2 linked regions of the Homo sapiens genome follow. The protein of the gene in region 2 interacts with the protein of the main gene of each other region in a biochemical or structural test. Each region holds a gene or a part of one and is shown on either strand. Other genes may lie near its edges. The genes, in order: SMAD4 and DACH1.

Region 1 (3,833 bases), on a different chromosome or scaffold from region 2:
CAGGGAATTGATGCTAATTTATTAAGTGTAATAAATAGCACCGCGATTATGTTTTTCAGAAGTCTGTATAGATTTGTGAGTTACACAGGAGTATTTTATGAGTTACTCACACAGAAATATTTTATGAGTGACTATGCTGTTTGGAATTGGCTTTCAACGACTCCAGGAAAAAAAAGTTGGGGGAGAAACACATTAAAGATTGGTAAAGTGCTGATAATTGTTGCAGCTGGATGATAGGTACATGTGGTTTATTATTTTCGCTATACTTGGCATGTTTAAAAGTGTCATATAAAAAAATTCCAACATTCTTTAACTGAACTATAACTGGAAATGAGAAACTGGGTTTGCTGTTGTGAGGTAATCAGGCAATTCCATTTTTATGGATGCTATGGGGCTACATTATTTTTATCCTAAGCAACTTCCTGGTAATAAGTTATGAGACACAGTTAATTCTACCAATTTACAATCACTGACAATGAAAATGTTGAGGATGACACACAATTAAAAATATATTTAGGCTATCTAATTACAACTGCCTTTCTCTTTCAAAAACAGGTTATATTATAAAGTAAAATTCAAACAGGTTGAATATATAACTAGTGAAAAATATTTCAGGCTTATCAGGTTCTTAATTTGAAAAGCTATTAATTTTAGAATTCTCTTCCATAAAATCCTGAAGATTGGCTAAGATGAAAGTCCAGAGTCTGATTCTTACAAATTTCAAGTTACAGGAATACAACTTTGGAGGCTTCACTCAGTATTTTCAAGAGCCTTTGTATTACTCTAAAACATGTAACAGGCCTGGCACAGTGGTTCACACCTGTAATCCCAGCACTTTGGGAGGCCAAGTTGGGCGGATCACTTTAGGTCAGGAGTTCGAGACCAGCCTGGCCAACATGGTGAAACCCCGTCTCTACTAAAAATACAAAAAATTGCCAGGCACAGTAACATGTGCCTGTAATCCCAGCTACTTGGGATGCTGAGGCACGAGAATTGCTTGAACCCAGGAGGCGCAGGTTGCAGTGAGCCGAGATCACGCCACTGCATTCCAGCCTGGGCGACGAGAGCAAGACTCTGTCTCAAAAATAAATAAATAAATAAATAAATAAAATAAAAAACAAAATGTAACAAATTGGCAACGATAAAACTAGATTACTGATAATGTCAATAAATGCCCTCAGAAAATGTGTTTTTTATACTTAAACACAATTTCTTATTATTTAATATATAAAACATTTTTCCATTCCTTCCACCCAGATTTCAATTCTTTTGACAACAAATAGAGCTTTAAGTCTAAAATATTCAAATAAAATTGTAACTAACCTTTATATATGCACTTGGGTAGATCTTATGAACAGCATCTCCAGGTGCACGCCCAGCTTCTCTGTCTAAGTAGTAACTCTGTACAAAGACCGCGTGGTCACTAAGGCACCTGACCCAAACATCACCTTCACCTTTACATTCCAACTGCACACCTTTGCCTATGTGCAACCTTAGGAAGAAAAAAGAAATTACATTTTATCTTGATAAGTATTTTAAATTAAATTTTAGTTCAGATTGTATAGCATGCTTAATATTGAAAAATTAAAAATAAAGATCACATAAAACCAAAAGATAGCTATTAACATTTTTGTATATTTCCTTTTTTCTTTTCCTGTTCATATCTAATAATGATGCACATATTTACAACACTTACTATGTGTCAGGAGCATGTAGTATGAATTCTCATTAAACCCTTACAACTCAACAAGTACTATTATTCTAATTTTTTTAGATAAAGAAACTAAGGCATACTGTCCAAATTGATAGCCACTAGCCACATGTGACTATTTAAATTAAATTAAAACTAATTAGAAATCCGATTAGTCAATCAAGTGAGCTATAATTTAAGTGCTCAATAGTTACATGTGGCTAGTGGCTACCGAACTGGACAGTGCAAATATAAATCATTTTCTTCATCACAGAAAATTCTATTAGGCAGAATGGCTTAGAGGTTAGGTAATTTGCCAAAGTCACATGACAGCAAGTGATAGAGCCAAGATTATGTTCTTTAGCACACACATCCTTAAAAGCCGAGATCATACAGTAGCTAAAATGGAATGTTCCTGTAATATTTCACTGTAAGCATTTCCATTTCATTATATAAACTTTTTTTTTTTTTTTTTTTGAAATGGAGTCTCACTCTGTCACCCAGGCTGGGGTGCAGTGGCACGATCTCAGCTCACTGCAACCTCCACCTCCTGGGTTCAAGCAATTCTCCTGTCTCAGCCTCCTGAGTAGCTGGGATTACAGGTGGACACCACCACATATGGCTAATTTTTGGTAGAGACAGGGTTTCACCATGTTGGCCAGGCTGGTCTCGAACTCCTGACCTCAAGTGATCTGCCTGACTCCGCCTCCCAAAGTGCTGGGATTATAGGTGTGAGCCACCGCACCCAGCCTCATTATATAAACTTTTAAACATTTTAATGACTGTATAAAAAAGGAAAAATTTATCATAATTTACTTAACCATTTCCCTTTTATTACCAATTTTTTTAACATTATAAGTAAAACTTTCAGAAACATGTTCTCATTTAATATTACTTCCTTTCAGTAATTTGTAGAAATGTATGATCACAGAAAATAAAATTTTCAAACTGAATTTCAAAAGGTATACTTACTATTCGAAACATAGAAACCTACTAACATAAAAAAGGCTATCTTTTATCATTATATGTTAAACAACAAAAACACCGACAATTAAGATGGAGTGCTTACAAATTCTGAGTTTTCAACATGACCTTTATTCCTTTATTTATATTTAAGAACACATATAATGTACATGGGAAAACATAACCTTGAATAAAAGACAATGTACTATGCTCAATTTTTTAAAGTAACTATCTGACTATACAATCAATACCTTGCTCTCTCAATGGCTTCTGTCCTGTGGACATTGGAGAGTTGACCCAAACAAAAGCGATCTCCTCCAGAAGGGTCCACGTATCCATCAACAGTAACAATAGGGCAGCTTGAAGGAACCTTAAATGTCTCTCCTACCTGAACATCCATTTCAAAGTAAGCAATGGAACACCAATACTCAGGAGCTATAGGAAATAAATGGGAAAGAACATCCTCCCATGAGAAAGATATAAGGCTTTCACTTGCACTCCACAACACAGTTTTTCCTAAAAGAAAGGGTAAAGGGAGGGGAGATGGAAATGTAATGCACCCAAAACAACTGGATTAAAATAACATAATGCATTAAAAGGTAGGAATTTCCATGTCTTCTATTTTCTAGCTCAGTACTTAGCACTGTTCTTAAAACACTAATTTTTTTTTTTAATTTCCAATTACCACTTATCCTCAAGTTCTAAAAGTCATTTTTTAAAATCTGGAATTTGGTTCTTACCTCAAAGGACCAGGTCAACTGAGAATTTAAAGAACAGAAATAATCAGAATCTAAAATAAATTATTTTACCATGGTATTTCATTTGACTACACATATTCTCTATGTAGTCTCAACTTTTATTTTTTAAAAACACACTGACCCTAAGATGTATTCCAGGGAACTGTCCTTGAATAACATCGACTCATGACATATTTTTATAGATTCCCTAATTGAGAGAAAGTGCATAAGCAAGTCAGCTATCCCATCCCTGAGTTAAGGTTAATTATACTCTAATCACACAGTTGTTGTACACACAGATTCTCAACTGTCTCTTGGGTAGAAGGTCATTTGTCCCACCTATGCCATAGCAAAAGGTATTTTTAGTGAAGTCAGGTCATGTTAACTACCACAATTTTAACTTTGGAGATGTATTTAGTGTACTCATTTGAACAATAATATAT
Region 2 (3,833 bases):
ATATATTTTTAAACAGAGAATTTAAAGTACATTATCATAAAAAAGGTTTAGAAAAATTAAGCTGTTTTTAATCACTGTCCTAATAACCATATAGCCTTGCATAATTATATCTAAAATATTTAAGTATAAACTACTTCTTTAACTCTAAAATTAATTCTTTTTTTCTGTTGTATTTCAGTAAAATAGGACCTGTTTATTGATGTATTGTTTCATGTTTTTATGTGCTACAAAAAGGTAAAATTAAAGCCAATTGTATTTTCCTAAGTTATTTGTCCTGTGGCCCTACATCCTACAGGTGTATATGTTATGTTTGCGTGTGTGTGTGTGAATGTATTCCTACACAACACATATACATGTATGTAAAGGCTTTTCTACCAAATGTACGACAATTATTTAAAGCATAGAGTACAAATGAGCTAATGCTAATACATATAAAAAATATCCACCACAGAGTTCTCTAAACTACTGATAAAAATTTTACACTTGTTGCACACACAAGAACATTCATCCTCATATAAAATGTGTGACAGGTATTATGAAAAATAAAAGTGTTCCAGGTTATTCTTTTAAAATCAAAAGGCACTATTTAAGTGTAAGTGCCTAACTCAAGAAGATAATATCATTTTGAATAATCAAATTAAATAAAAATCCTAAATTTGAAACATAAAATAGAAAGTAATACTGTTGAATGCATCAGTATATTTTAGCAGAACTATGATGGGTTCAAAGATTTGTTACACCTTAAGTGATTTACTTTGTTCATACATAAACAATATGTCTTTAAAATATAAGACTATGAATAAAACAGCCCATTTACTGTTGCTACTAATAAAATATCAGGATACAGTTTAAGATTTTAACAAAATACTCCATCTGCCTGATAAGTGAATGTAATACACTATTTCTTAGTTAACATATTCTAGAGATTTATTTTCATTGCCTTTACTGAAGAAATGACCAGTATCCCTTAAATGGAATTGATAAATATTTACTGCAAATGCTTCTGTATGTTTCCATAAAATATCTCCCTTTCAAGTAGTACACTTTCTTTCTTAAGATATATTTTGTTTGCCCTTGAAGAAAAATAAGGTTATTTTTTTCCTGTTGTAACTGGAAAGGCAATCTAATTATTTACAAACACTTGATACCATACAAATTCAAAGATCATTTAACACTGTGACTTTTTAATACTTCATGTTTACCACTCCATTCATATACGCTAAGGAAACAAAAACATTTCTCAATTATTCAATGTTACCAATCAACATCAACCAATGTACTATGTGGCCTATTGCAGTATTTGCTTCATGAAAATCATGCTTTAAAAGTATATCCATATTTTTTTTGTCAAAAATATAGGCTATCTTCAAAATCCACTTCAGGATTCTTAAAGATCTACTTATAGTCAAATCAAAGTATATTTATTTCTATTTTTCAAATCATAGAAAATATAATCACCACGTTGTACAACATTTTCTTCCTATCTAACTGAAATTTTGTAACCTTAGACCAACAGCTCTCCAGTCCCTGGTAACCACCATTCTACTCTCTGCATCTATGAGTTCAACTTTTTTAGATTCCACATGTAAGTGATATCATGCAGTATTTGTCTTTCTGTGCCTGGCTTATTTCACTTTTACTTCCTGCTAGAAAAATGTAATGTATTCCAGGTATTGTATTCAACCTGTACGGTACATTATTATAGATACTTCAGTTAAGCACTCTCTCTCTCTGCCTCTCTCTGCCTCTCTCTCTCTCTCTCTCTCTCTGTATCTCTCTCTCTGTGTGTCTCTCTCTCAGTATCAATCACTACTCTCTAAAACTTTTTTAAAAAGTAACTGGCTATTCAGTGTGTTGCTGTGCTTGTAGTTTACAACACTTCAATATACTTATAACAACAACAAAAAAAGACCAATTAAACAATGACATAGTGAGATTTCCAGTTTAATGAGTTGTCTTTGACAACTTCCAATCAAGTCACATACATTTAAATGTGCAGAAGAATCCCAGCTTGAAATCCTGGATCAATTCCAAGCCAATTTGGATCAGAAAGCAAAAGGACCACACCTTTAACACAATGCAGTCATTGGCAAATTTAATGTCCAATTTAGAAAGAATGAAAGATGATTTTTTTTAAATGGGTGAATTCGAATGCTTTTCTCTTATAAAGGAAATCTATGTCCGAATAAACCAATACATTTTAAATGCATTTGGTTCAAGGTCCTTGACTTTGGATCAAGTGGTGATTTGGGTCATTATATGTGATGTGACATATATTTTTTAATTGGACATTTATCTGCTATTCATTAAATTAATTTTAATTGTATCATTAATTTGAAAAACAATGACCTTTTTATTGATTGTCTAATAACTAATTTATAGTGGATTGAAAATTCTTTTCATTGTCATTTGTACATTTATATATAAAGCTAATCATTAGCTGCCTAAAACTAGCAACAATGGACACACTCTTAACAGATTCTCAGAAACCTCCTTAAAATAAATAGGTGTAACAAATAAAGTAATCCACCAGTAATCTAATAATAACTAATTAGTGGACCAAATATAAATATCTTATCCTTGGTATTCTTGTTTTCCAAAGCAATAATTTGGTAAACTAACTATACTATCCTAATGAAGTCATTCCTGTATGTGACATTTGCTAAAAAGCGAATATCAGCAAATAAAAGTTAGTTACAAGACAGCCACAGTAGCAAAAATTACTTTTTACTAGAAATATTTTTGGCAGATTGAGAAGAAGGAAACAAGAAATTTGAGCAAAATGTAGGTTTGCACAGAGCCTCTGCTGTGCCTGAGATGTACATATCTGTGCAGATCAGAGCCTTTGCTGTTACACTTATCTGAGCTCCATTAGGTGGGCTCTTAATTCATAGTTTTCTTCTTTAAAAATTTAATTATTGAACATAACAAACATAATAGAGAAGGGTCTCCTTAATGCAGTCCCAAAGCCTGAAAATATAAGTGTAGTCTTAGCTAGAATATTCAAACTACATATACTATATAAATATATTAATATACTACATATAATATGTAGTATTTAGACATACGTATGTACACACACACACACACACATGCATGCAGATATACATCTCTTAAACTGGCCAATCACAAAGCATTACCTCAGTAAGAAAATGGCACATGCTGACATATGCTAAGGTCATTCTATTTTTATAACAATTCAAACATAAAATGATAAAACTTTATCTTAATTACATTTTTAAATACCCAAGCCAATAATATCCATTTTTACATTTCCTGTTATTCTAAAGATATATAACTTAATGTGACTTTTTTTTTTTTTTTGGTGAACAAGCTGAAAAGGAAATACTTGAAAGATAAATTCAAACAAAGTTTAACTTTTTAAAAGAACCAAGTAACAAAAACCTTAAAATAAAAATGTTTAATGAAATCTAGATGACTCACCTGTACCTATTTAGAAGGCATAGTTCAAATTAATTTCTTCAGACAAGGATTCAAAGGGAGACAGTTTACAACCTGTGAGAGTTTAATTTCCCATTATATTTTGCAGTAGTTGTTTTCTATGTTGCTCATACAATGCAATCGAAATGACTATTTTACTTGACTGACAAAAGCAATTGTATGAAGCAATTTAGTAAAATAACTTGGAAAGATAAAATAATACTAATTGATAGTTAAAGCACAAATTGTTCTTAAAATAACAACTACTTGGTTGCACATTAAGCTAATTTACTAATGCTACTTATACTCTAAAAACAAAACATCAAATGAGAAACAATAAAGCATATCATGTTTTCATATGCTGGTGAATCACACGTAGTAAATCGCCAAAG

The links.
Region 1: the proteins of DACH1 (region 2) and SMAD4 form a complex in vitro, tested with the Homo sapiens proteins (one study listed by BioGRID).

What each region holds. Positions count from the first base shown.
Region 1 is NC_000018.10:51,064,678-51,068,510, reverse strand, and holds part of SMAD4 (mothers against decapentaplegic homolog 4), read right to left. Parts: intron 3,089-3,833; coding exon 2,905-3,088; coding exon of another isoform or gene 2,898-2,904; exon of another isoform or gene 2,766-2,897; intron 1,493-2,765; coding exon 1,324-1,492; intron 1-1,323. UniProt on the Homo sapiens protein: In muscle physiology, plays a central role in the balance between atrophy and hypertrophy. When recruited by MSTN, promotes atrophy response via phosphorylated SMAD2/4.
Region 2 is NC_000013.11:71,857,148-71,860,980, forward strand, and holds part of DACH1 (dachshund homolog 1), read right to left. Parts: intron 1-3,833. UniProt on the Homo sapiens protein: Transcription factor that is involved in regulation of organogenesis. Seems to be a regulator of SIX1, SIX6 and probably SIX5.